2 separate regions of the Homo sapiens genome follow, and region 1 is linked to region 2. The links come from fine-mapping of genetic effects on gene expression. Tissue or cell type: whole blood. Region 2 holds a variant in brackets; the other region holds the start of a gene. All regions are shown on one strand. Distances are from middle to middle.

Region 1 (8,184 bases), 130 kb before region 2:
AAATAGGCTGGACACGGTGGCTCACGCCTGTAATCCCAGCACTTTGGGAGGCCACGGCAGGCAGATCACCTGAGGTCAGGGCTTTGAGACCAGCCTGACCAACATGGTGAAACCCCATCTCTACTAAAAATACAAAAATTAGCTGGGCATGGTGGTGGGCACCTGTAATTCCAGCTACTTGGGAGCCTAAGGCAAGAGAATCCATTGAAACTGAGGGGAGGTGGAGGTTGCAGTGAGCCGAGATCGCGCCACTGCACTCCAGCCTGGGTGACAGAGTGAGACTCCGTCTCCAAAATAAATAAAATAAAAATAAGTAAATAAAAGGAAACCATAGGTCCTGCCACCAAAGCGGCTCCTAATGGAGTGGGAAAGTCATATGCCTCTAGGGAAAATCTTCTAATAGAAATGTCTTAGCACACACATTTCTGTGGTACATAACCTGGTTGTGATTGTAGAACCCTGATACATCCCAAAGCCTCAGGGGGCGTTTCATGTGTGATCAGAACAGGTCTGGTCAGGTGTCACAGACTTTGCCCATTTTTAGCCTCTCCCTCTGCTCTGAACTGCTCCACCAGGAACCCCCAGGGGCAACGAGACTCTGGGGTGAACAGCTGCTGCTGATTTGCCCAAGCCTGGGAGCTGTTGAATCTGCCCAGTGGGGGCAGGGCGGGGCAGCCGCTCTCCCCTTGTATTTCGCTTTGTCATGGGTGGGGAGGTAGGGAAGGAGGTTAGTTTGTATCCCAGTTTTTTATATGGTTTTTAGTAAAATATCCTTTTCTGTTTTTACTAAAAGTACCCTTCCCTCTTCCTTCCACTCCCATAGGTCTCAGATTCTAGTCCAGTGTGGGACTGGTTAGGAGGTAAATGCAGTGAGACATGGAATACTAAATTGCCCCTCCCACAGGCAGATTGACTGGGGGACAGGGGTCCACAGCTCTGTCGGCAACATGAGTTCAGACGTGTTCGAAGTGGGTGCAACTTAAGTTTAAGATGGGTCCTCACCTCCTTGTTCATAGAGCTACAAGAGTGAAGAAGAGGAAAGGATTAATTCATCCTGCAGAATTGAGAAAGAGCTTACAAAAGAAATGTCACTTGGGCCAGGCGTGGTGGCTCATGTCTGTAATCCCAGTACTTTGAGAGGCCAAGGTGGGAAGATCACTTGAGGCCAGGAGTTCGAGACCAGCCCTGGGTAACCCTGCCCCTACAAAAAAAAATAGCTGGGCATGGTGGCACATGACTGTAGTCCCAGCTACTTGGGAGGCTGAGGCAGGAAGATTGCTTGATCCCAGGAGTTCGAGACTGCAGTGAGCTGTGATGGCACCACCGCACTCCAGCCTGGGAAACAGAGTGAGACCTTGTCTTAAACAGAACAAAAGAATTGTCACTTGATCTGGGTTTTAAAGAGGGCTGTCAGATGGGGAAGGGAATTTCAGACAGAGGGAAGAGCAAAAGCGCAAGGCCCTTAGAGTGCTTGTTAGTTCAGACAAAGCTCTTGCTTCAGGGAATTTACACTCCAATGCAGTGAGATCAGCAATAAACAAACATGTGCATCCTGTTAGGCAGTGATAAATGCCAAGAAAAAAAATCAAACAAGGTGATAGGGCGTCTGGGAGTGGCATGGGTGCTATTTTAGGTGGAGAGGCTAAGGCCGGCCTTTCTGCAAATGTGTTTTTTGAGCAGAGACCTGAATGAAGTGAGGAAGTACGCCACGCGGGTAACAAGAGAAGGCCATTTCAGGCAGAGGGAAGAGCCAGAGTGCAAAACTCTGAGAGGAGCAGGCTTGTGTGCTCAAGAAGGCCTATGTATCTGGGGAACAGTGAGAGAAGAGGGCAGTGGGAGGAGAGGGAGCCACCATAGGGCTTTGAGCAGAGGTCATGATCAGTCCATCAGTTTGGAGAAGAGGCTTCTGGAAACATGGGCAGAAACAGAAAGACCAGTTAGGAGGCTTTGCAATGATCCAGGCGAGAGAGGACAGGGTCCTGAGTGAAGGTGATACCAGCAGAGGAGCAAAGGGGTGTTGGAGGATATTGCTGGATTCTGGTTATCTTTTGAAGGTAGAGTCAACGGGATTTGTTGATAGACTAGATAACATTGGAAAGGTAGGTTGTTGCTGAATTGGGAATTGAGACAATTTCTGAACATACCACTTCCCTCTTAAAAATTTCGTGTTAAAGTCCAGACTCATTAGCAGTCATTTATTCATTTGCTTATTCATTCAACACATACTGATTGAATGCCTAGTATGGACCAGGCATTGTGCTAGGTGTTGCAGGTAGACACAAAATTTAAAAGTAGGGCATACTGGCCGGGCGCGGTGGCTCACGCCTGTAATCCCAGCACTTTGGGAGTCCGAGGCGGGCGGATCACGAGGTCAGGAGATCGAGACCATCCTGCCTAACACTGTGAAACCCCGTCTCTACTAAAAATACAAAAAAATTAGCTGGGCGTGGTGGCGGGCGCCTGTAGTCCCAGCTACTCGGGAGGCTGAGGCAGAAGAATGGAGTGAACCCGGGAGGCGGAGCTTTCAGTGAGCTGAGCTCGCGCCACTGCACTCCAGCCAGGGTGACAGAGGGAGACTCTCTCTCTCTCAAAAAAAAAAAAAAAAAAAAGGGCATACTTTCTGCCCTTACAGATCTTCAGTCAGATGGGTGACACAGACAAGTACTTAGGTTATTACAACCCATGTGACAATTGCTACCATGGGGAAATACAGGGGGAAATAGGGGCATATAGGAAAGGTATCTAATTGGAATTGGCAAGGCTCCACTCGTACCTTACCCCGAGGTCAGCTCAGTTTTGAAGTTCACTCTAGCAGTGCTGACCATTGCGGGGCTGTGAGACAGTACAGTCTGAGCTCGGTCATCAGCGGGTGGCCAGCTTTGTCTCTGCCGCTCCGCGGCCCGGGCTTACTCGAAGGTCCCCGGGGAATAGCCTCACCTTTGCCCCACTTCCCAGTCTAGCCCCTAACTTCCCGCCGTCTATTGGCTGCGCAGCCGCCCAATGGGCAGGCGGAAACCGCGGGCTCGTGCTCCCGGCCTAGGGCGTCTTATCTCGTTCGCGCGTCTCGCGAGCATTAGGTGACTGGCTGAGGCGGCGCCAGTTGGCCGGGCACGGGGCTGCTGTAAGGCCGAGGTTGCGGCGGAAGCGGAGACCATGTTCCGAGCGGCGGCTCCGGGGCAGCTCCGGCGGGCGGTGAGTCCGGACTGGGAAGGCGAACCCAGGGACGGCCCCCCGTCAACCCGCCGTCCCTATGGGGTCTTGCAAAGATCACTGGCCCCCTCAGATTCGACCAGCCCTCGCGCCCGCAGGCCGGTCCCCGCCTGGGACTTGGGTCCAAAGTTCTGGGGCCTACCCTGGACTCCCTGCGGAACGCCAGTTCGGGGCAGAAGTCAGAGGTTTGGGGTCAGGGTGACCCCGAATGATGTGAATTTGCGCGTCTGCTGCCCCTTCTTCTGGCCCACTCTCTGCCCTGCCGTTTCCCACCTTTGTCGGTCACTCTGGGCACTTTCGGGCCGCCAGGTCCTCCACACTTGCTCCACACCCGAGGGAGCAAAATGTCACCGGGGAATGCCCTGTTGGGGAAAGTTTCAAACCTAGATTCCTCCCGGAGGCCGGCATTTCTGGAAGAATTAAACACTTTGGGCGCATCGTGGCTACTCCGACCCACTCACTGTCAAGGGCGGGGGTGGGGTGGGGTGGGAGGCTGCGTGGCCAGTTATGGAAGCTGGTTCTGCTTTCTGGTTTATGGAGCAGGGCTGAATTTAGGTGATTGTATTTGTAAAACCTGCGATCCGATTTGACAGCTTTAGCCAGTTTTGAAAGGCAGACGTCTTTTTATATGCTTCAGGCTGACCTGCTTTTAACCAGCAGATTGTAGATTAGGTTAACTGGTGACAGTGGTACATTTTCAGTGTTTCATTAGTGACAAACCACATTTCTCTCTTCTGTTGTGAGAAGGACTGATAGGAAACATATTTTCCTTCTCATGCTGTGGGAAAGGAGTATTTGGAGACTGACCAGTCACAAGTCAAGTAACAATAATTTATATTGTGGATTGTGTAGTTTTCCTAGTTTACATTTAGGTGAAATGAGAAACAAGATTGGTAAACTTGGGTCAGAAACTTACCTGATGGTTTGTACCTTTTCTCCTTTTTTTTTTTTTTTTTTTTTTTCTGGGCATGGATATTTTCCCATCCACTCCTGGGATTTTTCTCTCTGAGGCATAGCTGGAGCTCTTTCTAGATGTCTGTAGACATTAGACTTTTGTTTGTTTGTTTGTTTGTTTGTTTAAGAGACAAGGTCTGGCTCTGTTTCCCATGCTGGAGTGGAGTGCAGTGGCACGATATGGGCTCACTGCAACCGTCGCCTCCCAGGTTCAAGCGATTCTCCCACCTCAGCTTCCCGAGAAGCTGGGATCACAGGTGCGCATCATCACGCCTGGCTAATTTTTTTTTTTTTTTTTTTTTTTTTTTTGTAGAGACGGGGTTTCCCCATGTTACCCAGGCTGGTCTCGAACTCTTGTCCTCAAGTGATCCACCTGCCTCGGCCTCCCAAAGTCCTGGAATTACAGGCCTGAGCTACCGCACCTGGCCTTAGACATCTTTTTTCTTGTGCGTATTCCTTGTTTAATAAAAAGTTCTGACCCTCCCCTCCCCTAAAGAGTTCAAACCCATGTCTTTCAGGTTAGTGTCCTGTCTTCCCCTCAGGACATGTTTTCTCCCGGTTGGGGATCTAGACATAAACAAGTGAAAATCATGAATTTGGGGAAATTCCAGGAACCTGAGCCAGAAGAATGCTGCTCTATGCAGCAGTTGGAAAACAGTTTTGTGGACAGATTACAAGTCTGGCCTAAGTGAAATTATAATTGTGGTGGGGGATGGAATTTAGGACTCAGTAATTTTGTAGAGCTAACAGAAAAAAATGGAATGATTAAGTAATTTTTACTATCCACATCGTTGGCTAATGTGTATAGACATTACTTCCAGATATTCATTGTGGTTTGCCAAAGACTTTGACCTTGACTTATTTTTAAAATTTGAAGTCAAGCTAAGTAGAATAGCTGTTTTTTTTGTTTGTTTGTTTGTTTGTTTTGAGACGGAGTCTCGCTCTGTCGCCCAGGCTGGAGTGCAGTGGCGCGATCTCAGCTCACTGCAAGCTCCGCCTCCCGGGTTCACGCCATTCTCCTGCCTCAGCCTCCTGAGTAGCTGGGACTACAGGTACCCGCCACCACGCCCCGCTAATTTTTTTGTATTTTTAGTAGAGACGGGGGTTTCACTGTGTTAGCCGGTATGGTCTCGATCTCCTGACCTCATGATCCGCCCGCCTTGGCCTCCCAAAGTGCTGGGATTACAGGCGTGAGCCACCGCGCCCAGCCTAGAATAGCTGTTTTAAAGTCATTAAGAATGTTGGAGAGATTTGGATTTCTAGCATAAAAGAAATGGTGGCAACACTTCTAAAGTGGACCCATATATTAATAGGGACATATACCTGTATTTAACTTTTTAAATTTTGAAATAGTTGCACTTATAGAAAAGTTGCAAGAATAGTACAAAGAAATCTCAAAACCCTTCCCCTGGTTTTCCCAGCATGTTAGCAGTTTGACACATTTGCTTTATCTTTCCACATATATACATAATACTATCTTTCTGAACCATTTGAAAGTATGTTGCAAATGTGCCCTTTACTCCTAAATAATTGAGTGATATTTTAAAAGAACAAAGAGGTTCACTTTCTAACTACACTGTAATTGGCAATATCTGGAAGTTTCACCATAAAATACTGTTTTCTAATCTATGGATGTTCAATTTTGCCAGTTGTCCCATTAGTACAGTTTATAGCAATTTTCCTTATTCTGGTCTAAGATACTCTAGATGTCCTGCAAGTGGTTTTCATGTCTCTTTACTCTGTTAGAAAGGTTCCTCAGCCTTCCTTTGGGTTTGATGACATTGGTGTATTTGAAGAGTACAGGCCTTCTATTTTCCAGACTGTCACTCAATTTGGGTTTGTCTGGTGTTTCCTCATGATTAGATTCAGGTCATGTATTCTTGGTGGGAATATCACAAAAGTGGTATTGTGTTCCCCGTGCATCATATTAGCAGGTACTTAATGTTGGTTTATCCCATTAGTGGTAATGCTGACTTTAGTTACTTAGCCAAAGTGTTGTTTGCCAGGTTTCTCCACTGTCAAGTTAATACTCCTCCTTTTGTAATTTTTAACTAATTTGTGAGGCGATTCATTGAGACTATGTGACTGTCCTATTTCTCATCAGACTTTTACCCAGTCTTAGCATCTGTTGATGATTTTTGCCTGAGAAATGATTACTATGATGCAAAATGGTGATTTTCTATTTCCATGATACCTTCGTACATTTTTTAGTTATTCTACTATAAGGAAGAACATTATCTTCTTGCATATTTATGGATTTATGGATACATGGATCCTTATTTAGGATAATACATTTCTACCTTATGCTGAAGTTGTCTCATGTTTGTAAAGTGGGGCCCATTCAATCTGACTCCTGTTTGTTTACATATATATGTTTGTGATATCACAAAGTCAAAATAGCTTATCTCAAGTCCCCACTCTTGAAATTAAAAAAAAAATGTTCTGTAGCTAACCATTAATGCATTTAGGAAGAGGATACATTTCCAAAACCATATTTAAAAAAATAAAGTTAGGAATTACAGTTAAAAGATTACCATAAACTGTTAACGATGTGCATATAGTTAACACTTAACACTTAAAAATGGTTAAGATGGGGCCAACCATGGTGGCTGACACCTGTAATCCCAGCACTTTGGGAGGCTGAGGCAGATGGATCACCTGAGCTCAGGAGTTCGAGACCAGCCTGCGCAACATGGCGAAACCCCATCTCTACCAAAAAAAAAATTAGCCAGGCGCCATGGTTCACACCTGTAGTCCCAGCTACTTGGGAGGCTGAGGCACGAGACTTGCTTGAACCTGGGCATTTGAGGCTGCATTGAGCCCAGGTAGCACCACTGCCCTCCGGCCTGGGCAACAGAGTGAGACGCTGTTTCAAAAAAAAAAAAAAAGGTTAAGATGGTAAATTTTATGTATTCTTTTAAACCACTTTGTTAAACTATTAGGATATAAGTTCAATGACTTGCATTTGGTATCTAAGTTCCATTTTTAGTTCTGACTGATTTGTGCCATTGAGTAAAGTCTTTCATCCTTATGTGTGTGGCAATGGTCTTTAAAGTCATCTGTTAACAAAGATAGTTTTTATATCTATAATAAAGAGCTAGAGAACACACCAAGAGGCAAATAGGTAGGCATTTGCAGTTAGTTAATATTCTTGCAGGGATATTAATCCTAATTATTGTTATTTATTAATTTGCTCTTGAAATTGATTTATTGAAGAATAAGAAGATGCAGAAAAATATTTATGTGGTGAGTGAAACAACAATTTCAAGGTCATTTGAGTACTCTTTTTACTGTGTTTATTGTCAGGTGGGAAGGAATATCTATCAGGACTGAGAAGCTATGAAACTGGTGTGAAGGAACATGACACTTTTCTGTCTAGTATTGATGAATAAGATTGAACTCTGTAATTTGCATGCAAATTTTAATTTCTATTGAAAGAAGAAAGAGAGCCAATTTTGGTGTGATTCTAAAAGAAAATTTATTGCATAAGGTGAATTCAGTAAAATTATGATGCCTGCCAATGTGTCTACTAAGAGTCTTGTCCTTTCTTAAAGTGAAGTAAATTGACTGTGTTTTTAGTATTACAGTCAATGTCATATAACATTTCTGGTCATGATTAAAAGCTGCTATATTTTATTACTAAAAGGATTAAAGGAAGTATTTAAAGTACAGAAATATACATTTTAAAAATTACAAAATGTATGTTAAAATAGGGATAGGTGACTTTATATATTATCCTTTTGGGTATGACTCAGAAAGATTTTATAGCTTATTCTTGCTGTTTTTCTTTTTTTAATTAAGAAGCAAAAAAACCGGCTGGGTGCAGTGGCTCATGTCTGTAATCCCAGCACTTTGGGAGGCTGAGGTGGGTGGATCACGAGGTCAGGAGTTTGAGATTAGCCTGACCAACATGGTGAAACCCGTCTCTACTAAAAATACAAAAATTAGCTGGGTGTGGTGGTGCGTGCCTGTAATCCCAGCTACTTAGGAGGCTGAGGCAGGAGAATTGCTTGAACCCAG
Region 2 (8,184 bases):
AGTGAACAAACAAGGACTTCAAAATAACTACAATTAATATGTGAACAAAAATAGGGGAGAAAGACAGACAAAATGAGCGTAGTGTTTCAGCAGAGAGTTAGACTCTATAAAAAGAATCAAATCAAACTTTTAGAATCTTGATATACAGTATCTGAAATTGAGTAGTTGGTTGGATGGGTTTAACAGGAGATTGGACGTAGTAGGGTTGTTGAAGACAGGTCTATAGAAAAACATCAAAACTTACAGCCATTAAAAAAGGAGACAGGGAGAGAGAGAGAGAATGAATAGTGGAGCAGAGTAGGATCTAAGAGAAACGTGAGACATAATCAAATGGCCTCAGGTACAACTGGAGCTCCAAGAGGAGACGAATGAGACAGGTGCAATGAATAAAGAAACCATGGCCAAGAACTTCCCAAATCTAATAAAAAACATCAATCCACAAATTTAAGAAACTCCTAAGCAGAATAAATACCAAAAAACCCCACAGAAATCCACACAGAAGCACCTTGCAGTCAAACTGCTGAAAACAGGAAGAAACACAACAGGACGGGGCTCCCCAGGGCTCACACGGGCCTGTGCCTTAGGAAAAGAAGGTGCACAGTGGCTCCGATGAAGCAAATCTTCCATTGGCAAATGGGCCCGGTGGGAAAAAAAGACCATCCCTAGGCTTGGGAAGAATTAAAGTGCAGTCACAGCCCCATTTAGTGCACATCATTAGCTAAGTATTTCTAATCAGATAACCTGCCCAGATCATCTGGGATCCACAGGGAAGCCCGCAGTATGCATTACTGGAGTGAGTCAGGCCCCTTCCATCGGGGCCGGGCTTTTAATGCAAGCCCAGGAGGGGTCAGACCCACCGGGGCGGCAGGACGGGCACACCCAGCGCTTCTCCGCCTTTAATGGTCCGGTTGTGGAGTCCAATTGACACGGGCCTTGTCCTGATCAATGCACACTTTGGCCAGAAGCTCGATGGTATCTAATGCAATAGCAGTAATTCTGCTCCATCCTATTAGTGCTGTCTGCACAGGCTGCCCTGCCTTCAAACCCATCTGCTGTTGGGATAGCATCCAATGTTTATTTCCATTAGTTTCACCGTTGTTGGTAACAATAAAAATCAGGAGACAGTTGCAAACTAATGATTTAGGAGCAGAGTAAAGCTGAGATCGACCTTGGCCCCTTTCCATCCACTGTGAAGATGACTGGTAGTTGGCCATAAATTTAAATTATGGCAAAAGGATAACATAAGTTATTCCTCTGATGGCTGATTTTATCAGCTAAATAGGCTTGTCATTAAAGCTATCGGCTGTTTTACAAATCACTTCCCATCTTAAAAAAAATTTCACTTCCCACAGTGGAGATCCTGAATAATCCAGGTAACAAAGGCTATTGTGCTGAGCTGGGAACTTGTGGCCTCTGTAGGAAAAGAAGGAGCTCTCTGGAATGAGCCAGCCTCAAGCCCCGTCCCTGGAGCCAGCATGGAACCACGGCTTTATTCCTGCTATTCCTGCCCTTTGGCCCCTTTTCTGAGCTGCTAGCCCAGCCTCAAAGGCGAGTGACCTACGCAGAGCCGTTGGCATTCTCTCAGGGGTCCAGAAAACCAGGGGACAATGGGGTCCAGCGAGAGGCCTGGATGGGGAGATGGGCCCTGGCTCCCAATCAGACCACCCACCACCTCCCACGTCTGCTCCGGTTCCTCCACGTGAAAGACAGCGAAGGGGATGGAGGGGGGGCGTGACAGCTTCCTCTCCTCACATCTTCCTCCATCAGAAATGCCTACAGCTTGCAGGGTCAAGATTATCATCTTGTTTCTTCAGGAAAACAGGCCAGGGAGGCATGGCATTCCCCCAGGAAGGACTTTGATAAGTGTGGCTGTGCCGCCTGCTGTGGTGGAACCGGGGAAAGGGTAGGGAATGTTGTGAGCCCATTGGCCTTGTTTTATGGGTTGGGTGACTGTGCAGGCGACTGTTTTCTTCTTGGGCACAAAGACCACTTCTGACAGCATCTGGTGCCCCTAGTTGGTACTGTGCAACTGACTCTTGCCAATAAAACGGGGGCAGAGCAATATCACCATTTTCAGTCCTGGCCAATAAAAACCTGCTGTGCCCAATTCCCCAGCCTCACTTTCCTATCCACTGACTGGAGAAGACTCCGAGGACTTGGAGGAAGAAGGATCGGCCGGGCTTGGTGGCTCCCACCTGTAATCCCTGCACTTTGGGAGGCCGAGGTGGGTGGATCACTTGAGGTCAGGAGTTCGAGACCAGCCTGGCCAACATGGTGAAACCCCATCTCTACTAAAAATACAAAAATTAGCCAGGGGTGGTGACACATGCCTGTAATCCCAGCTACTCGGGAGGTTGAGGCAGGAGAATCGCTTGAACCCAGGAGGCAGAGGTTGCAGTGAGCCGAGATCATGTCACTGCACTCCAGCCTGGGCCACAGAGCGAGACTCCATCTCAAAAAAAAAAAAAAAAAAAAAAAAAAAAAAGCCACAAAATGGAAGCAGCCTGGAGGCCTGAGTGACTTGTGTGGAACAGAGGGTCCCTCCACCCTGCCCCATTGCAACCTGCATTGGAGTATGATGAGAGTGACAAATGTACTCCTCCTGTGTCAGGACTCAGATTTCTGGATTTGCTGGATGCAACAACTGGTGTTACTCACCCTAACTATCAGTGACTCAGGCAGATGCCTCTTTCTGGCGCAGGGAAATGGACACTGAAGCCCTGGGTTTCTTTCCTAGTCCCTCCATGAAAAACTACAGGATCTGGCCAAAGAATAGCCTCTCTGAGCCTCAGTCTTTCCATGTGAAGGGATTAATAGTACCCAGCCTGCCAACTTTCACCAGCAAAGGAAAAATGAGCTAAAACATGACAGTGCATTTGTGAATGAGCAACCATCATATAGATACATTTAGTAGTTTTTTTTGTTTTGTTTTGTTTTGTTTTTTTGTGACTGAGTCTCGCTCTGTCACCCAGGCTGGAGTGCAGTGGCATGATCTCGGCTCACTTTAAGCTCTGCCTCCCAGGTTCATGCCATTCTCCTGCCTCAGCCTCCTGAGTAGCTGGGACCACAGGCACCCGCCACCACACC[G/C]GGCTAATTTTTTATATATATTTTTTTTTAGTAGAGACGGGGTTTCACCGTGTTAGCCAGGATGGTCTCGACCTCCTGACCTCGTGATCTGCCCGCCTCGGCCTCCCAAAGTGCTAGGATTACAGGTGTGAGCCACCGCACCCGACCTCTCTCTTTTTTTTAACCCTTACTGAAAGCCTCCAGCAGGCCAGATTTAATTTGATGCATATGGCATCCACACGATGTAGGCCTTGTTACCTCCAATTTCCCCAATGAGAAGCTGAGGCTCAGGGGTTAAAGGGAAGATGACTGGTCACTGGTGGGGCTGAGGTTTGAATCTGGCTTGCTGGCTCCCCGAATAAGAGGATTCTTTCCACTCCTCCAAGCTCCCCGACAAGGGACTCACCTTTCCCAAGGTCTAAGGATGTCCTAAGGGGCTCACAGGTCCCACTGGTCTCCTTGGAGGCTGGACCTTGAGTCACCCCGGATTGAGCCTCATATCCCTCAGTATTTTGCCAATGATCTCAGGGTGAATGGTGCTGAGGAAGCAGAACGTCAGAGAAGAGAAACTAACTTCCACAGTGGGCCAGGTCAGATCATACTATTTTGTACCAAAAGCTGTTACCAGGCTTAAACATGAAAGAGCGGGTGTAACGGAGACTTCAGAATGTGTTTCGGAACTAGAGCGAGATCCCACGCATGGAGGTACATAAAACCTCAGAGGTGGTTTCGTGAGATGAGTCAGAAGAGTATATCGTTGCATTGATTTAACTGCTGCATCTAAAATGGCTTTGGTTTCTGAAGCAGCCAAGACAGAGAGAGAGACAAGGCATCCACACCGTCTCTCTGAAGGGCAGCCTCTAGCATCGTGACTTTGGACTCCATCTGTGTACCAGCGAGCCTAACTCGTCATGAAATTCTGGCCAAGATCCACCCCTCACCAAAAACAAACAAACAAACAAAAAGAATGGAAAAGAACTTCCACCTAAGGAATTGAGGAATTGCTGAATTCAGGGGTCAGAAGCCATGTGCTTCTATCACAGCAGCGGGGAGTCTGGAAGGGACTGCAGAAGGCATGGCCAGGGCTTTGGAATGGTATGACTGACCAGCAGAGAGACCTCCTCCCCTCCCGGGATCCTCTAGGCACCCCTCCCCAAGTAGGAATCTGTTAAGCATGAGGTGTGTCCACAACCAGAAGAGATCATAGGAATGAGGGAAGCAGTGAAGCCTGTTTCCCTGTCAAAGCCAGAGGGCCAGTGTGATCCAGGAGGGAAGGCACTGGAATGAGCAACAAGAGACCTGTTTTCGTCCTGGCCTCATAACTGCTGTGCCACGTTGGGCCCACCTCTCCCTTTCTCTGAGCCTCAGATGCCCCATCTGCCAAATCCTGGATTGGGCCAGCTGCCCTCCCCAGGGACCTTTCATCTGTTATATAAGGTGATTCTGGAGCACCTTGCATGTGGGCCTGTGACAAGAAATGAACTGCCATGTAGCACAGAAGGTGAAATGAATCAGATATTCATGCAAGAAACTGGCCAACAGGCTCACCTGAGAGTCTCCACAGGGTCACGGTAAGAAGCAATGTAATCTTTCTTAAAAAGTTAAGATGGGCTGGGTGCGGTGGCTCATGCCTGTAATCACAGCACTTTGGGAGGGTGAGGCGGGTGGATCACCTGAGGTCAGGAGTTTGAGACCAGCCTGGTCAACATGGTGAAACCCCGTCTCTACTAAAAATACAAAAATTAGCTGGGCATGGTGGCAGGTGCCTGTAATCCCAGCTACCCGGGAAGCTGAGGCAGGAGAATCTCTTGAACCCAGGAGGTGGAGGTTGCAGTGAGCCAAGATGGCGCCACTACACTCCAGCCTGGGTGACAGAGTGAGACTCTGTTCCAAAAAAAAAAAAAAAAAAAAAAAAGCTTAAGATGAAGAAACAGAGAGTAACTGTGCAGTGGAGACACCTGACCCACGCTGCCCCAGCCGGGTGATCCAGGCCGCATCACAGTGAGAAGTCACGTGGCCAGTGTGTCCTCTTGATGTGAGACAATAAGAATGGCACTTTCCTTCTGCAGTCTTCCTCCCAAAACCCACAACCCCAGGCTTACCCTGGGAAAAACATCAGACGAATCCCAACAGAGGGGCATCCTGTAAAACAAAAACACCCGACCAGTGCTCCCCAAAACCCTTCAGGTCATCAGAAACAAAGTCTGAGAAATTGCCACAGCCAGGAGGAGCCTAAGCCTACTGAATGCGACGTGGAGCAAACAGAGGACATAACAGATTAAATACTAAGAAAACCTGAGTACCGTATCAATGTGGGTTTGTTCATTGTAACAAATGATACTAGTGTATGATGTTAATGATGGGCAGCCAGGCACAAGGGATACAGGGAACTCTGCACCTGCTTCACTATTTTTTGGTCAATATAAAACTGTTCTAAAAAATAAAGTTTATTTTTTTAAAAAGAGCTGGGTGAAGTTGTGGCAAATAGTTGAAATAGTTGTACAAACACACCCCAGCAAGAGAGCAAGGGAGTGAAAAGCGTTTTGTTTTGTTTTGTTTTGTTTTGTTTTAGAGACAGTCTTGCTCTGTGGCCCAGGCTGGAGTGCAGTGGTGTCATTACAGCTCACTGCAGCCTCAAACTTCTGGCCTCAAGCAGTCCTCCTGCCTCAGCCTTCCAGAGCACTGGGATTACAGGTGTGAGCCATCGCGCCAGGCCAGGTGTTGTATTTAAACTGGGACCCTAACACATTTCATTGGTAAATGTCAATTTTTCAGGCAGCATATGTGAATTCAGTTTGGAAATGTCTTCATTATACTCTGAGAATTCCAGCAAGGAGACAGCAAGAGTTTGTCACAAGGAATACTAGACTGTCCTGGAACGGGGTTGGGGGCTGCCATTGAGACAGCTGAGGGGAGCCAGGTCTGTGCCTGCAGTATAAAATACCCCATGCATAATCTGATCAATGTTTTTGCTGAGTGCTAAGTGCCATGAGTAGGAAAAAGGAGGCTCAACGTGATGGGCTGGAAAAGAACAGTGTTCACAGTTAGGACACCTGGTTCTATGCCCCCCTGGACTAGCTGTGTGCCCCCAAGGCGAGCTGCCACTGCTCAGTTTTCTTATTTGTAAAATGGGTGTGTGGGGCAGGTGTGGTGGGGCTGGTGGACTTCGGGGTCCACACCCATTAGTTGCTACCCATCATGTGTCAGGCTTTAGGCTACGATCTCATCACCATCCTTCGAGGATTCTATTACTACACCCATTTTTCAGATTAGGAAAACCAAGGCCCATAGATGTCCCATTAATGCCCAAAGCCACAAGGCCAGTAAGTGTTCTAAAGAGAGACACACCTGGGTTCGAAGCCAGCTCAAAGTCTATTTAGAACCAAGTCTATTCTCAACCATTCCATGGGCTGCTGTCTCCAAGGGTCTAGCCATCTCTGACATTCCAGGGCCCACAGTCTCATTTCCTCCAGGGTATCTGTTACCCAGTCAAGTCTCAAACCAGGTCTGAAAATACAGCTGCAAGTGAGGCATCTGTCTGCTTCGCTCTGTGGAGTGGGCACCACAGACTCCAGGAGAGCTGCCCTCCTGGTCCCTCTGGCCAGGCAGCCCCCACCCTCCCCGGTGGCCCCACTGGGAGTCCAGCCTGTCTGGCCCTTTCTGCTGTCTTAACTAAGATGACAGGCTTCAGGTGTTTTTTAAATTAAAATGGTTCGTTTCTGTTCATCTCTTTTCCAGATGTCGCTACCTAGAGGGAATCTGTCTTTATTTATTGGCTCTTTCCTGTGCAGAATGCAAGGGAGTCTCCCTCCGGCTGAGACCCCCGGGAAGGAGGCCACATGTGGAGGTGACTTGAACCAGGACGGCAGGAACCTGGGGTCCCCGGGGGGCTCCGGACAGAGGTCATGGTGGAAACCCTGGGAGGTGGGGTTGCCGTTAGGATTTTCTCCTGGCCACGTGGCGCATGTGTGGCTGAGGTGAGGTGTGCGGCAGGGTCAGCGCGTTCCCTGCTGGGCTGGGAGGCTGCGAATTTATGAGGGGCGGATGCAGCCCTGTGTCCGTGTCTTTCACGTTGCCAACTGCAGTGAAGTAGAGCATTTGTTTTCCTGTTCAACAGCAGAATGAGAACTGCCTGATCGGCTTCCAGTCGCTTTCTGGATGACACCCTGCACTTTACTTTCCCCACTTCCCTGCAGCCCCCTCTGCCTAAAGCCCAGCTTCTCTCACCTTCTTCTCCAGCCTCTGTCCCCAGTCTTCCTGTCTCCACCCTGCCCTCTCCATCCAGCCTCCAACGGCAGCCAGAAGGCTCCATCAACAACTCACATCTGAGCAGATCCCCCAGTCCTGCTTTTAATCCTCCAGGCTTCCTCTGTCCCAGCAGGATAAAGCCCAAACTCTCTGGTCAGCCACAGAGCCCCTTCCCAAGCCTGTCCCCAATCCTACTGCCTCCCTCTGCTCACCCTCTAAATGGCCCCGAACCCCGGGGGCACTGCACCCACTCGCACACCCCACACTGTTCCCTCTGCCTGGCAGCCTTCTCCCCAGGGCTCTGCTCCACATCAGCTCCTCTGGAAAGCCTTCCCCATCCTGGCCTGCAGAGCCCGGGACGTGCCCATGTGATACAGGCATTGCACCAGATTTCCACTGCCTATTTATGGGCTGCCAAACCCCCTGAGTCACCCAGAGCCCCGTGAGGACGAGGGTCACACCCTGTCCTAGGCGGCATCCACATGCCCGGCACAAGCCCAGCACAGAGCAGCTCTGGACGGTGCTGGCTAACCACGCGATATGGCAAGAGAATGAATGAAGCTGATGCCAGCTCCTCAGGAAGGGAATGCTTCTCTTCCTAGTCTAGGATTCCATAGCCTGCCCTGCTCTCGGGACACCTTGGACAACGTGCCCCTGAGGGCCATGTCCCCTGATGACCCCTCTTGTCACGCATAGGCATTCTGTGCGAAACAAAAGGTCATAGTGTTCCCAAAGCAGATAAAAAGATTGGTTTCCTGACAGACATTCCGAGGGGATGATTCTGAAGACACTGTGTGCGTGTTCCTGTGGGGACATTTCCCAGGATCACTTTGTTGTGACATTCCACAGACGTGTCCCCCACCCCAAAAC

Evidence for each region. PIP is the estimated chance that this variant, and not a neighbour inherited with it, causes the effect.
Region 1: it holds the start of ETFA, and the variant in region 2 is fine-mapped to the expression of ETFA in whole blood (INTERVAL, PIP 0.94).

What each region holds. Positions count from the first base shown.
Region 1 is chr15:76,306,358-76,314,541 of GRCh38, reverse strand. ETFA (electron transfer flavoprotein subunit alpha) reads left to right here and starts at 3,073. Exons shown (of 12, transcript NM_000126.4): 1 at 3,073-3,192. The coding sequence starts at 3,154. RefSeq lists a cis regulatory region at 468-889 and enhancers at 2,451-2,500, 2,561-2,610, 2,820-3,320, 3,321-3,821.
Region 2 is chr15:76,177,405-76,185,588 of GRCh38, reverse strand. All of the region lies in intron 8 of TMEM266 (transmembrane protein 266), which reads right to left. LOC101929439 (a long non-coding RNA gene) reads left to right here and starts at 4,103. Exons shown (of 3, transcript NR_120360.1): 1 at 4,103-4,637; 2 at 6,805-7,043. RefSeq lists enhancers at 3,703-3,752, 3,963-4,012. The variant G/C (reference allele first, on the strand shown) is at 3,088.